2 separate regions of the Homo sapiens genome follow, and region 1 is linked to region 2. Evidence: fine-mapped QTL for protein levels in blood plasma. A gene starts in region 2. The other region holds a variant in brackets. All regions are shown on one strand. Distances are between the middles of the regions.

Evidence for each region. A credible set is the group of variants that fine-mapping cannot tell apart. PIP is the posterior inclusion probability: the model's chance that the variant is causal. The UK Biobank Pharma Proteomics Project read protein levels with antibody pairs (Olink). The fine-mapping took linkage between variants from a reference panel, not from the people measured, so its PIPs are less certain.
Region 1: its variant is the best candidate, but not a certain one, in a credible set for the plasma level of the CCL16 protein (UK Biobank, PIP 0.80).

Annotation. Positions count from the first base shown.
Region 1 is chr17:35,321,479-35,333,639 of GRCh38, reverse strand. No RefSeq gene overlaps it. Among named protein-coding and RNA genes, the nearest start is that of SLFN11, 46 kb to the left of the region's middle. RefSeq lists an enhancer at 1-180. The variant C/A (reference allele first, on the strand shown) is at 7,218.
Region 2 is chr17:35,972,903-35,984,974 of GRCh38, reverse strand. It overlaps CCL16 (C-C motif chemokine ligand 16), which reads left to right and starts at 3,478. Exons shown (of 3, transcript NM_004590.4): 1 at 3,478-3,630; 2 at 6,712-6,832; 3 at 7,244-8,476. The coding sequence starts at 3,555. The coding sequence ends at 7,409. It overlaps CCL14 (C-C motif chemokine ligand 14), which reads left to right. Exons shown (of 3, transcript NM_032963.4): 2 at 523-637; 3 at 1,087-1,687. The coding sequence ends at 1,174. CCL15-CCL14 (CCL15-CCL14 readthrough (NMD candidate)) reads left to right here. Exons shown (of 7, transcript NR_027922.3): 6 at 523-637; 7 at 1,087-1,319. RefSeq lists a silencer at 2,668-2,963 and an enhancer at 2,668-2,963.

The sequences.
Region 1 (12,161 bases), 650 kb after region 2:
ATTCCTCCTCTCTGGGCAGGACATCTCTGAAAGAAAGGCAGCAGCTCCAGTCAGGGGCTTATAGATAAAACTCCCATCTCCCTTGGACAGAGCACCTGGGTGAAGGGGCAGCTGTGGGCAGCTTCAACAGACTTAAACGTTCCTGCCTGCCAGCTCTGAAAAGAGCAGCAGATCTCCCAGCAAAGCACTCAAGTTCTTCCAAGGGACAGACTGCCTCCTCAAGTGGGTCCCTGACCACCCTCCCCACCATGCCTCCTAACTGGGAGACACCTCCCAGCAGGGGTTGTCAGATACTTCATACAGGAGAGCTCCAGCTGGAATCTGGCAGGTGCCCCTCTGGGACAAAGCTTCCAGAGGAAGGAACGGGCAGCAATCTTTGCTGTTCTGCAGCCTCCGCTGGTGATACCCAGGGAAACAGGGTCTAGAGTGGACCTCCAGCAAACTCCAGCAGACCTGCAGCAGAGGGGCCTGACTGTTAGAAGGAAAACTAACAAACAGAAAGGAAAAGCATCAACATCAACAAAAAGGACGTCCACACAGAAACCCCACTGGAAGGCCAAAGCTAGATATATCCACAAAGATGAGGAAAAATCAGCGCAAAAAGGCTGAAAATTCCCAAAACCGGAATTCCTCTTCTCCTTCAAAGGATCACAAGTACTCGCCAGCAAGGAAACAAAACTGAACGGAGAATGAGTTTGACAAATAGACACAAGCAGGCTTCAGAAGGTGGGTAATAACAAACTCCTCCGAGCTAAAGGAGCATGTTCCAACCCAATTCAAGGAAGCTAAGAACCTTGAAAAAAATGCTAGAGGAATTGCTAACTAGAATAACCAGTGTAGAGAAGAACATAAATGACCTGATGTAGCTGAAAAACACAGCATGAGAACTTTGTGAAACATACACAAATATTGATAGCCAAACTGATCAAGCAGAAGAAAGGATACGAGAGATTGAAGATCAACTTAATGAAATAAAGCATGAAGACAAGATTAGAGAAAAAAGAATAAAAAGGAATGAACAAAGCCTCCAAGAAATATGGGACGATGTGAAAAGGCCAAACCTACATTTGATTGGTGTACCTGAAACTGACAGGGAGAATGGAACCAAGTTGGAAAACACACTTCAGGTTATTATCCAGGAGGACTTCCCCAACCTAACAAGACAGGCCAACATTCAAATTCAGGAAATAGTACACCACAAAGATGCTCCTTGAGAAGAGCAACCCTAAGACACATAATTATCAGATCCCCCAAGGTGGAAATGAAGAAAAAAATGTTAAGGGCAGCCAGAGAGAAAGGTCGGGTTACCCACAAAGGGAAGCCCATCAGACTAACAGTGAATCTCTCTGCAGAAATCCTACAAGTCAGAAGAGAGTGGGCGCCAATATTCAACATTCTTAAAGCAAAGAATTTTCAACCCAGAATTTCATATTCAGCCAAACTAAGTTTCATAAGCAAAGGAGAAATAAAATCCTTTACAGACAAGCAAATGCTGAGAGATTTTATCACCACCAGGCCTGCCTTACAAGAGCTCCTGAAGGAAGCACTAAATATGGAAAGGAACAACCAGTACCAGTTACTGCAAAAACATATCAAATTATAAAGTCCATCGACACTCTGAAGAAACTGCATCAACTAATGGGCAAAATAACCAGCTAGCATCATAATGACAGGATCAAATTCACAGCTAACAATATTAACCTTAAATGTATATGGGCTAAATACCCCAATTAAAAGACACAGGCTGGCAAATTGGATAGAGTCAAGACCCATTGGTGTGCTATATTCAAGAGACCCATCTCTCGTGCAAAGACACACATAGGTTCAAAATAAAGGGATGGAGGAATATTTACCAAGAAAATGGAAAGCAAAAAAAAAAAAAAAAAAAGAGCAGGGGTTGCAATCCTAGTCTCTGATAAAACAGACTTTAAACCAACAAAAATCAAAAAGGACAAAGAGGGGCATTACATAATGGTAAAGGGATCAATGCAACAAGAAGAGCTAACTCTCCTAAATATATATGCACCCAATACAGGAGCACCCAGATTCATAAAGCAAGTTCTTAGAAACCTACAAAGAAACTTAGACTCCCACAGAATAATAGTGGGAAACTTTAACACCCCACTGTCACTGTTAGACAGATCAATGAGACAGAAAATTACGAGAATATTCAGGACTTGAACTCACCTCTGAACCAAGAGAACCTAATAGACATCTACAGAAATCTCCACCCCAAACCAGCAGAATATACATTCTTCTCAACACCACATCACACTTATTCCAAAACTGACCACATATTTGGAAGTAAAACACTCCTCAGCAAATGCAAAAGAATGAAAATCATAACAATTAGTCTCTCACAACACAGTGCAATCAAACTAGAACTCAGGATTAAGAAACTCATTCAAAACCGCATAACTACAAGGACAGTGAACAACCTGCTCCTGAATGACTACTGGGTAAATAACAAAATTAAGGCAGAGATCAAGAAGTCCTTTGAAACCAATGAGAACAAAGACACAATGTACCAGAATCTCTGGGACACAGCTAAAACAGTGTTTAGAGGGAAATTTATAGCACTAAATGCTCACAGGAGGAAGCGGGAAAGATATGAAATAGACACCCTAACATCACAATTAAAAGAACTAAGATCAGAGTAGAAATTTAGAGAAGTGAGAGCAAACAAATTCAAAAGCTAGCAGAAGACAAGAAATAACTAAGAGCAGAGTAAAACTGAGGGAGATAGAGACATAAAAAAACCCTTCAAAAAGTCAATTATTCCAGGTGCTGGTTTTTTGAAAAAATTAACAAAATAGATAGATGGCTAGCCAGACTAATAAAGAAGAAAAGAGAGAAGAATCAAAACACAATAAAAAATGATAAAGGGGATATCACCACTGATCCCACAGAAATACAAATTACCATCTGAGAATACTATAAACACCTCTATGCAAATAAACTCAAAAATCTAGAAGAAATGGATAAATTCCTGGACACATACACCCTCCCAAGATTAAACCAAGAAGAAGTCAAATCCCTGAATAGACCAATAACAAGTACTGAAATTGAGGCAGTAATTAATAGTCTACCAATAAAAAAAAAAAAGCCCAGGACCAGACGGATTTACAGCCGAATTCCACCAGAGGTACAAAGAGGAGCTGGTGCCATTACTTCTGAAACTATTACAAACAAAACAGAAAGAAGGAATCCTCCTTAACTCATTTTATGAGGCCAGCATCATCCTGATACCAAAACCCGGCAGAGACACAACAAAAAAAGAAAATGTCAGGCCAATATCCCTGATGAACATTGAGGCTAAAATCCTCAATAAGATACTGGCAAACCAAATCCAGCAGCACATCAAAAAGCTTAACCACCACGATCAAGTCAGCTTTATACCTGGGATGCAAGGCTGGTTCAACATACACAAATCAATAATCGTAATCCATCACATAAACAGAATCAATGACAAAAACCACATGATTATCTCAAGAGATGCAGAAAAAGCCTTCGTTAAAACCCAACACCCCTTCATGCTAAAAACTCTCAATAAACTAGGTATTGATGGAACATATCTCAAAATAATAAGAGTTATTTATGACAAACCCACAGCCAATGTCATACTGAATGGGCAAAAGCTGGAAGCATTCCCTTTGAAAACCAGCACAAGACAAGGATGCTCTCTCACCACCCCTATTCAACATAGTGTTGGAAGTTCCGGCCAGGGCAATCATGCAAAAGAAATAAAGCGTATTCAAATAGGAAGAGAGGGAGTCAAACTGTTTCTGTTTGCAGATGACATAATTGTATATTTCAAAAAACCCATTGTCTCAGCCCAAAATATCCCTAAGCTGAAAAGCAAATTCAGCAAAGTCTCAGGACACAAAATCAATATGCAGAAATCACAAGCATTTCTACACACTGACAACAGGCAAACAGAGAGCAAAATCATGAGTGAACTTCCAATCACAACTGCTACAAAGAGAATAAAATACCTAGGGATATAACTTACAAGGGATGTGAAGGACCTCTTCAAGGAGAACTACAAACCACTGCTCAAGGAAATAAGAGAGGACACAAATGAATGGAAAAACATTCCATGCTCATGGATAGGAAGAATCAATATCATGAAAACGGCCATCCTGCCCAAAGTAATTTATAGTTTCAATGCTATCCCCATCAAGCTACTGTTGACTTTCTTCACAGAATTAGAAAAAACTACTTTAAATTTCATATGGAACCAAAAAAGAGCCCGTATAGCCAAGACAATCTTAAGCAAAAAGAACAAAACTGGAGGCATCAAGCTGCCCAACTTCAAACTATACTACAATTGCTACAGTAAGCAAAACAGCATGGTACTGCTACCAAAACAGATATATAGACCAATGGAACAGAACAGAGGCCTCAGAAATAATGTCACACATCTACAACCATCTGATCTTTGACAAATCTGACAAAAACAAGCAATGGGGAAAGGATTCCCTCTTTAATAAATGGTGTTGAGAAAACTGGCTAGCCATAAGCAGAAAACTGAAACTGGACCCCTTCCTTACACCTTATACAAAAAGTAACTCAAGATGGATTAAAGACTTAAACCCAATACCTAAAACCATAAAAACCCTGGAAGAAGTCCTAGGCAATATCATTCAGGACACAGGCATGGGCAAAGACTTCATGACTAAATCACCAAAAGCAATGGCAACAAAAGCGAAAATTGACAAATGAGATCTAATTAAACTAAAGAGCTTCTGCACAGCAAAAGAAACTATCATCATAGTGAACAGGCAACCTACAGAATGGGAGAAAATTTTTGCAATCTATCCATCTGACAAAGGGCTAATATCCAGAATCTACAAAAAACTTAAACAAATTTGCAAGAAAAAAACAAACGACCACATCAAAAAGTGGGCAAAGAATGTAAACAGGCACTCCTCAAAAGAAGACATTTATGCAGCTGACAAACATATGAAAAAAAGGTCATCATCACTGGGTCATTAGAGAAATGCAAATCAAAACCGCAATGTGATACCACCTCATGCCAGTTAGAATGGCGATCATTAAAAAGTCAGGAAACAACAGATGCTGGAGAGGATGTGGAGAAATAGGAACGCTTTCACACCGTTGGTGGGAGCATAAATTAGTTCAACCATTGTGGAAGACGGTGTGGCAATTCCTCAAGGATCTAGAACCAGAAATACCATTTGACCCAGCAATCCCATTACTAGGTATATACCCAAAACATTATAAATTATTCTACCATAAAGACACATGCACACGTATGTTTATTGCAGCACTGTTCACAATAGCAAAGACCTAGAACCAACCCAAATGCCATCAATGATAGCCTGGATAAAGAAAATGTGGCACATGTACACCATGGAATACTGTGCAGCCATAAAAAGGATGAGTTCATGTCCTTTGCAGGGATATGGATGAAGCTGGAAACCATCATTCTCAGCAAACTAACAGGAACAGAAAACCAAACATTACATGTTCTCACTCATAAGTGGGAGTTGAACAATGAGAACACATGGACACAGAGAGGGGAACATCACACAACGGGGCCTGTTAGGGGGTGGGGAGCTAGGGGAGGGATGTATTAGGAGAAATACCTAGTGTAGATGATGGGTTGATGGGTGCAGCAAACCACCATGGCACGTGTATACCTATGTAACAAACCTTCACATTCTGCACTTGTATCCCAGAACTTAAAGTATAATAATAAAAAAAAGCACAAAGAGGGACATTATATAATGATAAAAGGCTTTGTCCAACAGGAAACTATCACAATACTAGACATACATTCACCTAACACTGGAGGTCCCAAATTTATGAAACAATTACTAATAGATCTAAGAAATGAGATAGACAGCAACAAAGTAACACTGAGGAACTTCAATACTCCGCTGACAGCACTAGACAGGTCATTAAGACAGAAAGCCAACAAAGAAACAATGGATTTAAACTACACCCTGGAACAAATGGACTCAACATATATATACAGAACATTCCATGCAACAACTGCAGAATACACATTCTATTCAACAGCACATGGAACTTTCTCCAAGATAGACCATATGATAGCCACAAAATGAGCCTCAATAAATTTAAGAAAATTGAAATTATATCAAGCACTCTCTCAGGCCACAGTGGAATAAAACTGGAAATAAACTTCAAAAGGAACCTTCAAAACCATGGAAATTAAATAACCTGCTCTTGAATGAACATTGGGTCAAAAATGAAATCAAGATGAAAATTTAAAAAGTCTTCGAACTGAATGACAATAGTGACACAACCTATCAAAACCTCTGAGACACAGCAAAGGTGATGCTAAGAGGAAATTTCATCGTCCTAAATGCCTACATCAAAAAATCTGAAAGAGCACAGGCAATCTAAGGTCACACCTCAAGGAACAAGAGAAACAAGAACAAATCAAACCCAAACCCAGAAGAAAGGAAGGAAATAACCAAGATCAGAGCAGAACTAAATGAAATTAAAACAAAAAAATACAAAAGATAAATAAAACAAAAAGCTAGTTCTTTGAAAAGATAAATAAAATTGATATACCATTAGCAAGATTAACCAAGAAGAGAGAAAATCCAAATAAGCTCAGTAAGAAACGAAACGGAAGAGATTACAACTGACACCACAGAAATGTGAAAGATCATTCAAGGCTACTATGAACACCTTTGCATGCGTAAACTAGAAAACCTAGAAGAGATGGATAAATTCCTGGAAAGACACAACCCTCCTAGCTTAAATCAGGAAAAATTAGATGTCCTGAACAGACCAATAACAAGCAGTAAGATTGAAATGGTAATTTAAAAATTACCAACAAAAAAAAGGGTCCAGGACCAGACGGATTCACAGCAGAATTCTACCAGACATTCAAAGAAGAATTGGTAACAATCTTTTTGACACTATTCCACAAGACAGAGAAAGAGAGAACCCTTCCTAAGTCATTCTATGAACCTAGTATCTCCCTAATACCAAAACCAGGAAAGGACATAATCAAAAAGAAAACTACAGACCAATATCCATAAAGAACATTAGATGCTAAAATCCTTAACAAAATTCTAGCTAACCAAATTCAAGAACATATCAGAAAGATAATCCACCATGACCAAGTGGGTTTCATACCAGGGATGCAGGGATGGTTTAATATATGCAAGTCAATAAATGTGACACAGCTGGGTGCGATGGCTCACCCCTGTAAT[C/A]CCAGCACTTTGGGAGGCCGAGGTGGGTGGATCACCTGAGGTTGAGAGTTCGAGACCAGCCTGACCAACATGGAGAAACCTCATCTCTACTAGAAAAAAATTACAAAATTAGCCAGGCATGGTGGTACATGCCTGTAATCCCAGCTACTCGGGAGGCTGAGGCAGGAGAATCGCTTGAACCCAGGAGGCAGAGGTTGCGGTGAGCCAAGATTGGGCCATTGCACTCCAGCCTGGGCAACAAGAGCAAAACTCTGTCTAAAAAAAAAAAAGTGATACATCACATAAACAAAATTAAAAACAAAAACCATGTGATCATCTCAATAGATGCAGAAAAAGCATTTGACAAAATCCAGCATCACTTTACTATTAAAACTCTCAGCAAAATTGGCATATAAGAGATATACCTCAATATATTAAAAGCCATCTATGACAAAGTCACAGCCAACATAATACCGAGTGGGGAAAAGTTGAAAGCATTCCCTCTGAGAACTGAAACAAAACAAAGATGCCCACTCTCACCACTCCTCAACATAGTACTGGAAGTCCTAGCCAGAGCAATCAGACAAGAGAAATAAATAAAGGACATCCGAATCAATAAAGAGGGACTCAAATGTCCCTGTTTGCTGATGATATGATCATTTACCTGGGAAACCCTAAAGACTCCTCCAGAAAGCTCCTAGAACTGATAATTCAGCAAAGTTTTCAGATACAACATTAATGTACACAAATTAATAGCTCTTCTATACATCAGCAGCGACCAAGGGGAGAATCAAATCAAGAAATCAACCCCTTGTACAATAGCTGCAAACAAACAAACAAACAAAAAAAAAAAACAGTGAAAGGGCATCATTGCCTTGTTCCAGTTCTCAGGAGGAATGCTTTCAACTTTTCCCCATTCAGTATGCTGGCCATGGTATTTTATTATTCTTAATAGCTCTATTCATAATAGTCAAAACCTGGAAATAACCCAGAAGTTTTTCACTTGACAAATGGAAAAGCAGTGGTATATTTTCTTAAAAAATTTTTGTGGGTACATAGTAGGTATATATATTTATGAGGTACATGAGGCATTTTGATACAGGCATGCAATGCACAATAATCACATCATGGAAAATGGAGTAGCAATTCCTTCAAGCATTTATCATTTGTGTTACAAACAACCCAATTACACCTTTTAAGTTATTTTAAAATGTACAGTTAAATGATTATTGACTATAGTCACCCTGTTGTGCTATCAAATACTAGGACTTCTTCATTCTATTCCTTTTTTTGGACACATTCTACATCCCCACTGCCCACCAACTCCTTCAACCACACTTCCCAGCCTCTGGTAATAATCCTTCTACTCTCTATCTCTATGAGTTCAATTGTTCTGGTATTTAGATCCCACAAATAAGTGTGAACATGTGATGTTTGTCTTTCTGTGCCTGGCCTTATTTTGTTACCAAAACACCAGGGGTTTAGTCTAGGTCCTGCTGCTCCCTGCACAGAAAGCCAATGACTGAGACAATGATTATTGCCAAGGAAGAAGGCTTTAATCAGGTGGTGTAGCTGAGGGGATGGGAGATCAGTCTCAAATCCATCTCCATGACTGACTAGAACTAGGGGTTGATATAGCAGGGAAGAAATGTAACAATGTGTAAGAAAATAAGAACTAGGGAGAGGCAAGGAAGCAAACATGGTGAATGAGGGGTCCAGCATCTGGTGAGGTGATCTGGTGAGTTTCAGTTCTTTGATCCTTTTTTTTTCAGAGGCCTGAAGGTCCTGTCCTGAGGAAGGAATGCAGATAAAACAAATATAAGTTTCAAGCTTTAAGACCAGAAGGGTCAATTTCTATGTTTATCAAAAAGATCAGTCTATGAGACTATTGGGTCAGTTTCAGCCCCCACTTTCTATTTATCAATTCCTCAGACATGAGGAATCTGGTCATCAATCTTTCTGGCTGCTTCATGCTGAGGAGGGGTGTCATAGGCAGCTCCATACCATGGGTGACCACGTGGCTGCCCAAGAATCAGACGTTAATCTAATATAGACTTTTCTTCTGAAACACAATCTTTGGAAGCAGAGAAACTCTAAGCAGACAGGGGAGGGTCCCCAGTGGAAATCCCACCTTCAAGCCAGAAATATCCTTAAACCCACTGCCCAAAGTGAGAACTTCTATTCCTGTTTGCCTACTCTCTCCTGATTGGTTCTTTCTGAATAATATCTTTACCAATGGAATGTCGCCTTTTCCAAAACTACCTATGGCCTGCCCATACCCATCCTGTGCCTATAAAGACCTCAACCTCCCTCCCTCAACCAGGAGGGAGAAGAAGTGGCTGGACATTGGGGAAAGATGAATTGACTACATAGATGATGGCTGGATGTCACAGAGAGGCAACTTGACTTTGGAGGAGAGAGGCAGAGTGGTGACTTGACTTCAGGAGAGAGAAACCTGCCCTTCCCATCCCTTTGCCACCTTGCCAGCTCTTCTCTCTACTGAGAGCCACTTTCATCACTCAGTAAACTCCACCTTCACCATCCTTCATCTGTGTGACCTGACCTCATTCTTGCTTTTTTTTTTTTACTCAGATGGAGTCTTGCTCTGTCACCAGGCTGGAGTACAGTGGCGCGATCTCGGCTCACTTCAACCCCCACCTCCTGGGTTCAAGCAACTCTTCTGCCTCAGCCTCCTGAGCAGCTGGGATTACAGGTGTGTGCCACCATGCCCGGCTATTTTTTGTATTTTTTTTTTTTAGTAGAGACGGGGTTTCACCATGTTGGCCAGGCTGCTCTTGAACTCCTCACCTTGTGATCCACCCACCTTGCCCTCCCAAAGTTCTGGGATTACAGGCATGAGCCACCACGCCTGGCCAACCTCATTCTTCTTTGGCACTGGACAAAAATTGGGGACCCACCAAGTGCAGGTACCCAAAAGGGCTGTCACACTGGCCCTTTGCTCTCACTGGCAGAGGGCAGCAGCCCCATTGATGAGTCAAAGGGCCCACTGAGCTGATAACACAGTGCTATCTGTGAAAGGTGGAGCTAAGAGAGCACTGTAACATTCCCTCTGGGGCCTTGGGGTTGCAGGCACCCCTACCTGGACTCTGCCATGGGGCCTTCATGGTGTTTGCTCCTGCCAGCACCAAAGCAGCCAGCCAGTTCCTGCACTCACTTGCTTACATGCTCTCTTCCACAAGGGATGGAATGCAGTGGGTCCAAGCAAATGGAATTTGCTTCTGTCAGTGCTGAGGCAGCCAGCTGGTTCCTGCACTTGTTCAATTGAGTGCTTCCTCCTGCAAGGGGTTGAGCACAGTGGACTGAGTATACAAGGCACTCCAGTCACAAGTCCCACAAAGGCATCAAGAAAATATCCTGCATCAAAAACATGTTGTTATGAACCATATGCAATCAAATACATTGCTGTGAATTAAGAATATTTACAAATAGTTTACAAATTCTGGAGAAATTAGGCAGAGAGAAAAATATGACTCAAATTCTGTTTACAAACGTATATTTACTTAATACACTTAAAATATGTTTCAAGTTTATAAATAGCTCAAAAGAAAACAATTCTTCAGACTCCAAAAAACAAAACAAAAAGAATCAGCAATATTTCAAACAAAAAAAGCCATAAAAATTATTTCAGTCCTCCATTAGTTCTGTCAATGCAATCAACTCTCACTCTGCTTCATATTGCATTAGCAATCTTTATGAACATATCAGCCTTTCAATAAGTGCAGTGAAAGTTTTCTCTCTGATCTAATGGTACAATCTGCAAAGTTATCAGAAACCTGCATTCAAGAGTCCTTTTAATGAACTCCTCCAAAGAAACAAGACTTGGACTGTAGCTGATTATTAGTAACGTTTTTTGGAAGGATCACAGCAAGACAACATTTGTGGATGAAAAAAGTCTTAGGATAGCCGTAGTCAAAGACACAGTTGACAAGGAAATTTGGTTATTTCTGTGGCATGCAATTTAAAATAATAATCATAATTATTACTGATGATGTTACCAGTGGAGGGTGTCCAGGTTCTTGGTGTTTTGAACAAATAATTGGACAAAATGCACAAAGCAATGAAAGAAAAGCACAGATTTATTTAAATGAAACTACACTCCACAGAATGGGAGTGGGCTGAAGCAAGTGGCTCAAGAGCAGGGGTTACAGAATTTTCTGGAGTTTAAATACCCTCAAGAGGTTTCCCATTGGTTATTTGCTTTACACCCTATGTAAATGAAATAATGGCCCATAACCAGTCTGAATGGTTGTGGAAGGTGACCAATCAGAGTCTGAAGTAAAGTTACAAAGTTATACATGAAGACTTGGCCAATCAGAGGTACTTTCATTTTTCATCTGCAATGCAGAAAAGATGGGGAGAGTTACAAAGAAAGTAGCCTCTGATCCCTTTACTACTTGGGTGTGGAGAGGTGGGGTTAGGTTCTCTGCCTCCAGGCCCAGTTCTCCTGTGCATTTCCCCTCTGAGAGATGTGATCCCCATAAATCTTTATGGGAGGCAGGGGGACTGAGGGTCTTTCTTCTGTAACTGCTTCATGCTGACTTGGAGCACCGTCCCTACCTATTGAGGATTATAGAACTCTCATCCTGCTCTGTCTGGTGGGGAGAGGGTAGCTTCTTGATGGCCAGTGGTGTCTTCACCTGGAACTGACTGGAAACCTCATCACATGATCATCGAAAGCTTGATTGTCTCTAGGGAAAAGGAAATGAATTAAAGACTTAAATCTAAGACCTGAAACCATTAAAATTCTAGATGATAACACCAGAAAAACACTTCTGGACATTGGCTTAGGCAAAGAGTTTATAACCAAGAACACAAAAGCAAATGCAACAAAAACAAAAATAAATAGATCAGACCTAATTAAACTAAAACCTCCTGCACAGCAAAAGAAATAATCAGCAGAGTAAACAGACAACCCACAGAGTGGGAGAAAATATTTTCAAACTA
Region 2 (12,072 bases):
TCCTGCTCTCTCTGCAGGTTGTCGGTTCAATGGGGACATGGGCAGGGTGGAGCACTAGGAGGGGCTGGGTTTGCATTCCCAAATGGCATGTCTCCAAATCCCTATTGGGATTTCTTCCAAATATTCCTCCTATTTGGAGCACCTTTCCCGAATAAGGCATGAAGGCTGCATGATATTGGCCAAGTCCCTAGCCTTCTCTGCCAGTCGGCCCCCAGAGATGGTGTAAGAAGATCTGAGTGTGCTGCTCTTCAATCCTGGAGTTGAAAGTCATCCACCAGTCTTTCCAAGAGGGGTTGAAGAAAAGGAGGAAGGGTGATTGATGATGAGGGAGGAGAAAAAGAAGAGCCCAGGAGTACCATGGAGAAGGAGAAGAGAAGATGAGGAAAGCCTACTCTCCCCTCCAAGTTCTGAGGGGCTGTCTCCTCCTTCCTTCCCTCCTCCATGCCCTCAGCTTGCAGGAGCAGCCAATGGTATGGCCTTTAACAAGGGGCCCCTCCTCAGCATCTGATGCTCTCTCCTCAGGGGGACCTTACCACCCCTCAGAGTGCTGCTTCACCTACACTACCTACAAGATCCCGCGTCAGCGGATTATGGATTACTATGAGACCAACAGCCAGTGCTCCAAGCCCGGAATTGTGTAGGTGGTACACACACATCACACTGGGGGGAGAGGGAGCCAGCAGGGCCTCCTGGAGGGAAGCAGGGAGTGGTGGTGGAATGGGGACCCCCAGCGTACCTCCCAGGTGTGACTACATGGGGAGAGGCAGCTGAGGGGCAATCTGAGCGCTTTCTGGCTGGAGCCTGCAGGAGCCATGGGGAAACTGACCCCATGGATGGGGAGATGACAGAGAAGGGAGAAGAAGGCAAGAGGGCACTTCCTCAGGGGGACACAGAGACTAGATGGGTCTAGGGGTCCTAGGAACCGAAGAGTATGTCTCAGAGAGGAGACTGGCTCTAAGCTGCCTCTGTGGAAGAAAGGAAAAGCAGTATAGGTCAGGTGGGGAATTTAGGAGGGAGGGAAGATGGGCTGTCTCTTCCGGCCACTGGGCCCCTCGGTTTGTGATCCTTCTCCCTCTTGCTCCACAGCTTCATCACCAAAAGGGGCCATTCCGTCTGTACCAACCCCAGTGACAAGTGGGTCCAGGACTATATCAAGGACATGAAGGAGAACTGAGTGACCCAGAAGGGGTGGCGAAGGCACAGCTCAGAGACATAAAGAGAAGATGCCAAGGCCCCCTCCTCCACCCACCGCTAACTCTCAGCCCCAGTCACCCTCTTGGAGCTTCCCTGCTTTGAATTAAAGACCACTCATGCTCTTCCCTGGCCTCATTCCTTTCTACGGGATTTACTCATTGGCCATGCACTGAGGACACCAGGGTGTGGCACCCTCGGCATCAAGCCTCGCTCTGCAGAAGTTTTGCTGGAGCCTGGTACAAAAAATAGGTCAGGCCTGCAATGCAGGTAGTGAGAAGCAGAAAGTGAGAAAGAAAAGCAGTGTAAAGACCGTCTCCTCCTCAGCAACAACAGTAGCAGACCCCGTTTTCTTAATGCTTTCTATACTCCAAGCACTCTGCTAGGCAGTCTGTATGCATTATCTTATTTAAGCTTCATGACAAGTGTAAAAGCTACAAATCATCATTTGATTTTTTAGGTAACACTTCATAAAGGGCTCTCTATAGCAGTCAAACTCCATAGTCCTTTTTTCTGTGCTGTTTTCAAGGCCTTTCTTCACTGCTGTCTGGAATAGGAATGATGCATGAAGACATTTTATCCAACCCCTCCCCTTCGCTTACACACATCAGATTATACTATATTGTTTTACTAACTTTTTTATCCCCTAGAAGGCTTAGCAGAAAGCCTAGCCCATACCAGGTGTTCAGGAAATGGATGGATGGATGGATGGATGAAGGAAGGGAAGAATGTGTGGATGGAAGGATGAAGGGAAGGAGGAATGGATGGAGGGAGGGAAGCAGGGAGGGATGAAGGGAGGGAGGAAGGGAGGAAGGGAGGGAGGAAGGGAGGGAGGGATGGATGGATGGATGGAGAGAAAGAGGGAGGGAGGGATAGAGGGACAGATGGAATAAGACAGAAATCAAGAGGAGGACTATGCTCCAAGAATAAGCTCTCAAACCTATCTTCAGGGCCCAAGGAGGAGCTCTGTGTACTTGGAATAAGAGCTTGCCCAGAGTAGGGATTATGACCACCCTTTCCTGGCCTCCAGCCTTCCACAGATAAGGAAGGGCTTGTGGGCCACATTAAGGGCCATATGGGGGCCTGCATGCCAAAGTCACAACCAGGCTTCTCAGGCCTTGTCACCTCCATAAACAGAGGTCAAGAGGATGCCCCACATACGTACCCTCCCTGCCCTCACAAAAAGCCACAGCTTCACCACCAGGTGAAGCCTTGAACCCACCAGGAGTAACTGCATTATACGGTTTACCTATCTATGAGCAGTCATGCCAAGCAGAAAGCCCCATAAGGATCTGCACAGTCCCTGTTTCTGCCCCTGCCTCCCACTGCCCTCAACACCTGAAACACATCACCTATGCCTCTAAAGCTTGCTGTCCATCAACAGCAAAATCCCTTATATCTTTGATCTCTTCTCTAAATGCAGCTTTCAACATGGAAAAGGGTCCTGAGGCACCTGAAGAGAGAGGAAGCTGTGGGACAGGTCCAGCCAGAGCCCAGGCCAGAGGGGCAGAAGCTGGAGTCCTGGAGCACAGACGCAGGTTGTCAGGTGCACAGAGTTGGAGGGTCCCCTGCTGGTCATGGTTGGCCATGGGGGCACCCAGGAGGGATCAGCGAGCTGGCTACACCTAAAAATCAGTCCAAAGTCCGAGGTCCAAAGAGATAAATAAAAACATTGACAAATAAGTCAAACGGTCCAGCAACAAATGGGGACCCAAGGATCAGGCACATTGTTTTTTTTTTTTTTTGGAGTATTAGCATACACTGTGACAGGAAAGAGTGTGAGCTCAATCATGTGGCCTTGGACTGGGAGAGGGCATTTCCTTCTCAGAGGCAACTAAGCCCTACCTTTGCCTCAGTCTGGGCTCTGTAATCCTGCTTTGTGCTCATCTCCCCAAGACTGATCACCTGGGGGAAGCTGGGGTGGTTCAACCCTGCCTGCCCTTCCCCAACATACAGATGGTGGCAGGTAACATGGTGAAATCAAACAGATCTGGTTTTTCATCCGCCTATCCACCCAGGTGACCTTGGACAATTTATTTAGCCTCTAGGCCTCAGTAGTCCCAGGGAAGTAATAATCGCTATTCACTATTTTAAGGATTATATAAGATAGGGCATGTAAGGTAGCTGACACACATTCGCCCATTTCTTCACGTGAATTCAGATTCTACTGAATTCAGCTCTGCACCAAGTCCCATCCTCTGCTGCCCTCTGTTTCAGCAAACACTGAGGCCTGTTGTTTCTCCTCCTCTACCGGCTCTGATGCGGTCAAGGTCCAGAGAGCTGAGTAGTTGGCAAGCGGACCACCAGCAACAGACAACATCTTCATTCGGCTCTCCCTGAAGCTGTACTGCCTCGCTGAGAGGATGAAGGTCTCCGAGGCTGCCCTGTCTCTCCTTGTCCTCATCCTTATCATTACTTCGGCTTCTCGCAGCCAGCCAAGTGAGTCCACTTGTCTCTGTAGGGCAGGAACGAGAAAGGGGGATGGAGCAGCTGGCAGGGAGGTAGTGCCAAGGGCGCTGTCGGGTCTCTGGCCTCATAAGACCCTGTGGGCTCTCCCCACCTTCATGCATAGCTTCTGACCTCCAATTCTCCCCTTTGTAAGTAGAGCTGGGGTTGGTCCGGATCTTTCTGGGGTAAGTAGTTCCAGGAAACTGGGTCACCATTTCCTCAGGAGTCCCAAGCGTGGTGAGCAGGAATGATCATTCAGGAGGAGAGGCCAAGAAAGCAGCAGAAAATGCAACAAGAAGTGCATGCAATGAAAGGGAGGGGGAGGCACGCGGATGAGAAAGAAAAGTGGCAGGTGCCCTGGAAGAATGAGTGGCGAGAGGAAGGAAGGTTCAAACAATCATGTGGGTCTAAGTCCAGGAATTGGGAGTCTGAACCGAGAGAGCCCTTCCTCAACATGGCTGGCACAGGTTGCTGGGACTATCAGACAACCAAAATGAGTCCCAGTGGAATGGCTGCTTGGGAATCTATGGTCCCCTTCTCCATCCCCCAGCCTATGACTAAATAAAATCTGCAGAAAAGAGGAAAGGGGTTGAAAGGTTTTGGAGCTGTGGGGAAAGGGAGAATTGGGGCCTATGGAGGAGGGGGTTTGTTTTGCCCCTCCGTATCTCCTCCCTCTATCATTGTTTACGAGGACCTGGTGACGGGGGTGGGGAGGACAAAGACGTGTACCTGCCCTAGGCTGCCCCAGCCATTCTTTTCGCTTTTGTTTTTTTGTTTGTTTGCTTGTTGTGTTTTGTTTTGTTTTGTTTTGTTTGTGATGGAGTTTCGCTCTTGTTGCCCAGGTTGGAGCGCAGTGTCGCGATCTCGGCTCACCACAACCTCCGCCTCCCGAGTTCAAGTGATTCTCCTGCCTCAGCCTCCTGAGTAGCTGGGATCACAGGCACACACCACCACGCCCAGCTAATTTTTGTATTTTTAGTAGAGACGGGGTTTCACCATGTTGGTCAGGCTGGTCTCAAACTCCTGACCTCGTGATCTGCCCACCTCGGCCTCCCAAAGTGCTAGGATTACAGGTATGAGCCACCATGCCTGGCCTCTTTTCTCTCTTAAGGTCACCCTGGCATGTAGTCTGGCCTGACTCTGCCTGTGTAAACACAAAGGAGCAAGGGTCAAGTGCACCATGTAATCTGCCCACATACTCTCAGGATGACCCTGGTCTTTGTAAACTTTGCTTTGAGAACCAGTGATATGAGCATCACTTACAGAGGGACTGTGTGGGAGGGGGGAACAGTGCTCTTTGGGAGAGTCAATCAGGCCAGTGCAGTGGGTTCAGGCTTCAAGAAAGAGAAAATGGCCCACCCAAAGCATGGATCAGCAAGATGGTGCTCTCAAGATGTCCCAAGCTTTGCCACTCACTGGAGGCAAAGGGGTCAAGCTACAAAAAGATTTGCACTCTGAAGGTTTGGGGGCTGGGAGAGATCTCTGGACTGACCTCTTGTGTAGTATCCCCAATTGATGGGTAGTCAGGACAGCTCAAAGGAAACACAGTGACAATAACCAATCAAGTCCAGTATCCTGCATACATCAAAGAGATGGGGGGAAGCGCCATTTCCAAGGCAAGAAGAGCAGTCATTACTACCATTGGCTCTTAATTATAATAAGCACTGATTGAGCCTTTCTGTGTGCCAGGCTCTGAGTTAAGGGCTTTCCAATCATTTTCTCACCGAATTCTAACCATGATCCTAGGATACAAGTAAGTATCATTTACCCCCACTTAATAGATGAGGAAACTGAAACCTAGGGAGATTAAGAAATTTGCCCATGATTCAAGTCAAAATTCAAATCAAGTCAAAATTCCAACCCAAGCTGTCTGACCCCAAAGCCTAAATCATATACTTTTTCCTCCTGCTCTAACTTCTGTCTCTAAAGGCTCTACTCTCTCACCCTTCCCCCTAACCTCCGCCTCTCCAATACCTCTAAGATAGAGTCCAAATTCCTCAGTAGCTCAGCAGGTATGTGACCAGACCCTCCTCCTCTCTCCAGTTTCATCTCTGCCCATTCATTTCTTCCTACCTTGCATGCCAGCCACCCAAACTGCCCAGCACTCCCAAGACACACTGAGCTTCCCCTACCTTCAGGCTTTCCTGCATTTCTTTCTTCCAGATTCTACAAGTCCTTTGTGTGTCTAAATCCTTTTTTTTTTTTCTTTTGAGATGGAGTCACTCTTTCGCCCAGGCTGGGGTGCAGTGGCGCAATCTTGGCTCATTGCAACCTCTGACTCCCGGGTTTAAGTGATTCTCCTGCCTCAGCCTCCCGAATAGCTGGGATTACAGGCATGTGCCACCATGCCTGGCTAATTTTTGTTAGTAGAGACGGGGTTTCACCATGTTGGCCAGGCTGGTCTCAAACTTCTGACCTCAGGTGATCCGCCCGCCTCGGCCTCCCAAAGTGCTGGGATTACAGGCATGAGCCACCACACCCAGCCGTGTGTCTAAATCCTACTCATCCTTTACGAATCAATGCAGGCCTCACTTGCTTTGAGACTTCTTCCTCAACCACCAAGGATGGGTTAGGGGCCCTTCATTCTGTTCCCATAGCACCTTATGCCAAAGTCTGTTCTATCCTGGACCACATTCTGTGGTAGTGTTTGTTTAACTTTTCAATTTCTCTTTCAACCCTGACTAGTCTGTAAGTTACTTAAGGGTAGTGACTGTATCTTCCTCATGTTTTTACCCCCATAGAGCCCAGCATATAATACTAGCTCAACACATGTTTGCCCGATCAAGTCACCAATAAACAAAAGAATGAGCCAGCTTCCTCCCGGTTCCTTGGCAAGTGTGAATAACTAAGTCATTTGTAGTTGACACTCAGCTCAGAGGCTGAGGGTTCTAAATGTATGTCCCCCAAAGGGATTCATCTTATGCACTTCATTACCAGTCAAGCTATCATTGGTCTCCTCTAACAGACGGCTTTGCTATCAGAGGAGTGAAACACAAATGGTGGGAGACAGAGGTGGGCAGCTGTGGTCTCCCCTCTGCTTCCCTGGCTCAGCTTGCAATGTGATTCCTTCAGAAGTTCCTGAGTGGGTGAACACCCCATCCACCTGCTGCCTGAAGTATTATGAGAAAGTGTTGCCAAGGAGACTAGTGGTGGGATACAGAAAGGCCCTCAACTGTCACCTGCCAGCAATCATGTAAGCACGTCCTTTTAGATATTTCTGTGGAGAGGGACAGGGAGCCCAGGGGCAGGAATGAGATACATGGGATCAAGAGGTCTCCATGCTAGAAGCAGTGGAGCAGTGGCTAAGGGTTTGGCCTTTGGCTCTCAGGGGCCTGGGATTAATTCCTAATTTTGCCACTTTTAGCTATGTGGTTCATTATGAAACCCAAGCTTGAGGGTCTAGGCTGAGTGGAGAAGGGACTGAGAGAAGGGATGGTAAGGTTCTGAGGCCAGAGAGAGAGGCTGTCTGAGGGAACCCAGCCAGGACAGGCCCAGGGAAGCTTTAAAGAACATAAGGTGAGCTCCATGTGAACCAGAGGTGGGGGTGGGCACCGGACTCCTGCCCGAGTCTGCAGCCCATGACGGTCTAATTCTGCCTCTGCAGCTTCGTCACCAAGAGGAACCGAGAAGTCTGCACCAACCCCAATGACGACTGGGTCCAAGAGTACATCAAGGATCCCAACCTACCTTTGCTGCCTACCAGGAACTTGTCCACGGTTAAAATTATTACAGCAAAGAATGGTCAACCCCAGCTCCTCAACTCCCAGTGATGACCAGGCTTTAGTGGAAGCCCTTGTTTACAGAAGAGAGGGGTAAACCTATGAAAACAGGGGAAGCCTTATTAGGCTGAAACTAGCCAGTCACATTGAGAGAAGCAGAACAATGATCAAAATAAAGGAGAAGTATTTCGAATATTTTCTCAATCTTAGGAGGAAATACCAAAGTTAAGGGACGTGGGCAGAGGTACGCTCTTTTATTTTTATATTTATATTTTTATTTTTTTGAGATAGGGTCTTACTCTGTCACCCAGGCTGGAGTGCAGTGGTGTGATCTTGGCTCACTTGATCTTGGCTCACTGTAACCTCCACCTCCCAGGCTCAAGTGATCCTCCCACCCCAGCCTCCCGAGTAGCTGGGACTACAGGCTTGCGCCACCACACCTGGCTAATTTTTGTATTTTTGGTAGAGACGGGATTCTACCATGTTGCCCAGGCTGGTCTCAAACTCGTGTGCCCAAGCAATCCACCTGCCTCAGCCTTCCAAAAGTGCTGGGATTACAGGCGTGAGCCACCACATCCGGCCAGTGCACTCTTAATACACAGAAAAATATATTTCACATCCTTCTCCTGCTCTCTTTCAATTCCTCACTTCACACCAGTACACAAGCCATTCTAAATACTTAGCCAGTTTCCAGCCTTCCAGATGATCTTTGCCCTCTGGGTCTTGACCCATTAAGAGCCCCATAGAACTCTTGATTTTTCCTGTCCATCTTTATGGATTTTTCTGGATCTATATTTTCTTCAATTATTCTTTCATTTTATAATGCAACTTTTTCATAGGAAGTCCGGATGGGAATATTCACATTAATCATTTTTGCAGAGACTTTGCTAGATCCTCTCATATTTTGTCTTCCTCAGGGTGGCAGGGGTACAGAGAGTGCCTGATTGGAAAAAAAAAAAAAAGAGAGAGAGAGAGAAGAAGAAGAAGAAGAGACACAAATCTCTACCTCCCATGTTAAGCTTTGCAGGACAGGGAAAGAAAGGGTATGAGACACGGCTAGGGGTAAACTCTTAGTCCAAAACCCAAACATGCAATAAATAAAACTCCCTTATTTGACAGCTTGATTCCTAACCTCCTGCTTTTTTTTCTGCTAGGGTGAAAGAAGCTTAATCTCAGTTTTTTTCAGGGGCTTCTCCACATTTCTTGAGACTTTTGTCAAGGTTGGGGGCCATTTATATTCAATCTTCCCCTCTGTCTCCAGCTTAACAGCAGACAGCTGACTCAGCTCGCTTGGATTCAACATTCTCCCAAAACGCTGTTGTGAAGACAAAACAAAAGCCAGGTAATTAAGACCGGATGGTTAAGACAGGTAATTAAGACCGGATGGTTAAGAGAAACAAATAAATGCAGTGAAGTGTCAAGCTGAAAACGGGCCAATGAATTGGATTCTGGTAAACTGACTCATAACTGCCCCCCAGTGGCCATGTTGTTAAAACCCGAGCCTCCTCCCTTGGCCGGCGCGGTGGCTCACGCCTGTAATCCCAGCACTTTGGGAGGCCGAGGGGGGCAGATCACGAGCTCAGGAGATCGAGCCCATCCTGGCTAACACGGTGAAACCCTGTCTCTACTAAAAATACAAAAAAATTAGCCGGGCGTGGTGGCGGGCGCCTGTAGTCCCAGCTACTCGGGAGGCTGAGGCAGGAGAATGGCATGAACCCAGGAGGCGGAGCTTGCAGTGAGCCGAGTTCGTGCCACTGCACTCCAGCCTGGGCGACAGAGAGAGACTCTTGTCTCAAAAAAAAAAAAAAAAAAAAAACGAGCTGCCTCCCCAGCCCAAGCTCATCTTCCCAGGATGGCCATCTCATCTAGCTGGCCAATCAGACTCTCAGAGAGATTTGAAATTTGGACCTGAGAAACTCAGTCTGGTTGCTGCTAGAGCAGAAGTGAGTTTCTGGCAGTGTCCCAAGGAAAGAGGTCTATGAACTTCTGTCCTGAGGTCCCTGGAACTGCCTCACTTCCTGCCCCAGCTCCAGGCTGGGAGCTTCAGCTGGTCTTTCAGTTCCATGAGATGTCCCAGCATCTTTCCTTTAAAAAAATTTCTAGGCCAGGCGCGATGGCTCACACTTGTAATCCCAGTTCTTTGGGAGGCCAAGGCGGGCAGATCACTTGAGGCCAGGAGTCTTGAGACCAGCCTGGACAACATGGCCCATCTCTACTAAAAATACAAAAATTAGCTGAGCATGGTGGTGGTCGCCTGTAATCCCAACCACTCAGATGGCTGAGGCATGAGAATCGCTTGAACCCAGGAGGCAGAGGTTGCAGTGAGCTGAGATCATGCCACTACACTCCAGCCTGGGCAACAGAGCGAGACTCCATCTCAATTTAAAAAAAAAATTCCTAAAGGGCCATGGTGGCAATTTAGCACCTCAGGAATAACTTATTGGTTTAGGTCAGTTCTTGGCGGGGGATGATGGATGTATGTGTGTTAAAATAGACATAACAGGGGCTGGGCAAGGTGGCTAACGCCTGTAATCCCAGCACTTCCAGAGTCTGAGGTGGGCGGATCACTTGAGGCCAGGAGTTCGAGACCAGCCTGGGCAGCATGGCGAAACCCCACTTCTACCAAAAATACAAAAAAAAAAAAAAAATTAGCCGAGCATGGTGGCCTGGGCCTATGGTCCCAGCTGCTCAGGAGGCTGAGGCAGGAGGATCCCTTGAGCTGGGGAGTCAGCTGAAATCGTGCCACTGCACTCCAGCCTGGGTGACAGAATGAGACCCTGTCTCAAAAAACATGTGTGTGTGTGTGTGTGTGTGTGTGTGTGTGTGTGTACACACATAACAAGGCCATGCACAGTGGCTTATGCCTATAAACCCAGCACTTTGGGAGGCTGAAGCAGGAGGATCATTTGAGTCCAGGAATTTGAGATCAGCCTGGGCGGTATGGTGAGATCTTACATATTTTTTAATCTCTACAAAAAAAAAACAATTAACTGGGCACGGTGGTGTGTGCCTGTGGTCACAGGTACTCAGAAGGCTGAGGTAGGAGGATTGCTTGAGCCCAGGAGGTTGAGACTGCACTGCAGTGAGCCATAATATCACCACTGCACTCCAGGCTGGATGACAGAGCAAGACTCTGCCTAAAAATACATATATATATATAGGTGTGTGTGTGTGTGTGTATGTGTGTATGTGTGTGTGTATATATATATATATATATATAGACAAAATTTACCATTCTAAACATTTTTATGTGTACAATCCTACATTCACTTTGTTAGGCAAACATCACCACTATCCATCTCCAGACTTTTCTCATTGTCCCAACCTGAGACTCTGTACCCATTAAATGCTAACTCACCATTCTCTCCTCCCCCAGCCTCTGGTAACCACTATTCTTCTTTCTGTCACTATGAATTTGACAGCTCTAGGTATTTCATGTAAGGGGAATCACATAGCATTTGTCCTTTTGTGACTAGCTTATTTCACCAGCATAGTGTCGTCAAGGTTCATCCAAGTTGTAGCATGCTTCAGAACGTTATTCCTGTTAGTCATTAGGCTAACATTCCATTGTATGTATCTGCCACATTTCGTTTATCCAGCTAATCTGCTGATGGACGTGTGGGTATCTCTCTTTTCTTGCTAGCCAGAGTTTGCAGATCTTGGTTTCTGTCACTTGCACCAAAAGCACCTGAACTTGGGCAACAACCCATCAATCACCCGGGCATTGACTCAGAGGAGCCCCATGTGCTTGCTGCTCTTGCTCCTCCACAGAGGCAGTGCTACCTGCTTTGGTCCCTCCCTGGACTGTGAGTCCCTGCTCCTTGATCCAGGAATTTCTCTCCACCCTCCTTGCTATCAGGGGTTACAGCTAAATATGATCAAACTCCTTCCTCCAGGAGCTCCCAGCCTGGGGATGACAGAATCAATAACATACAATGTAGTCAGGCCCAGACCTTTGCTTGCAGAGGCCAAAGCAAACATGGGGGTGGGAGTGAGGCCGGCAGGGCCTAGGTTGACAGAAAAGTCAGGACAACATCAGATGCGGCAAGAAGTTTCAAAGTCCTTAGCCAGCACCAGGGTCAAAGCCAGGGAGTCAGAGTTCAAAGGCCTAAAAAACAGGACAAGGCTAAAAACAGGAAGCTCAGGGCCGGGGTTCTGGCAAGCTGGAACAGAATGTCGTTGTCTTGTGTTTTGTTTTGTTTTGTTTTTAAATTCAGGAGCACTGAGGTGTCAGTCTGAAAACCTGAGTAATCGAGAGTCTATATACACAAAGTCAAATCCCCACCCTAGCACATAATAAAAAGCCTGCCAGAAACTTCTGATGGTTCAGAACTGGAAGAGCTTTTCTCACGTGCATTCAGTTGCTTTTCAAGAAGGATATTCCCAGTCTTTTCAAGGCAGGCAGATAGATGGCTGACCTTAAACACACACAAATACAGAAAGGACTTCGGTCATTCTGATATACAGAGTTTTCCAGCTGTGGTCATCCTAAAGCAAATAAACCTTTTCTTGAACAACTTGTATGACTGACCTTTTGCCTTGTAGAATACAGGTGGCTGGGTACATGGGGGAACCAACTGGAACAGGAAGGGAAGAAAATGAGAGAACAACTCTGGATACTACAAAGAGCATTTTACTGGGAGTCACAGAGGACGGCTCGCATGTCCTCTTTCTACACAGCCGTCTTAGACACCATGAATCCTTGAAGCAGATG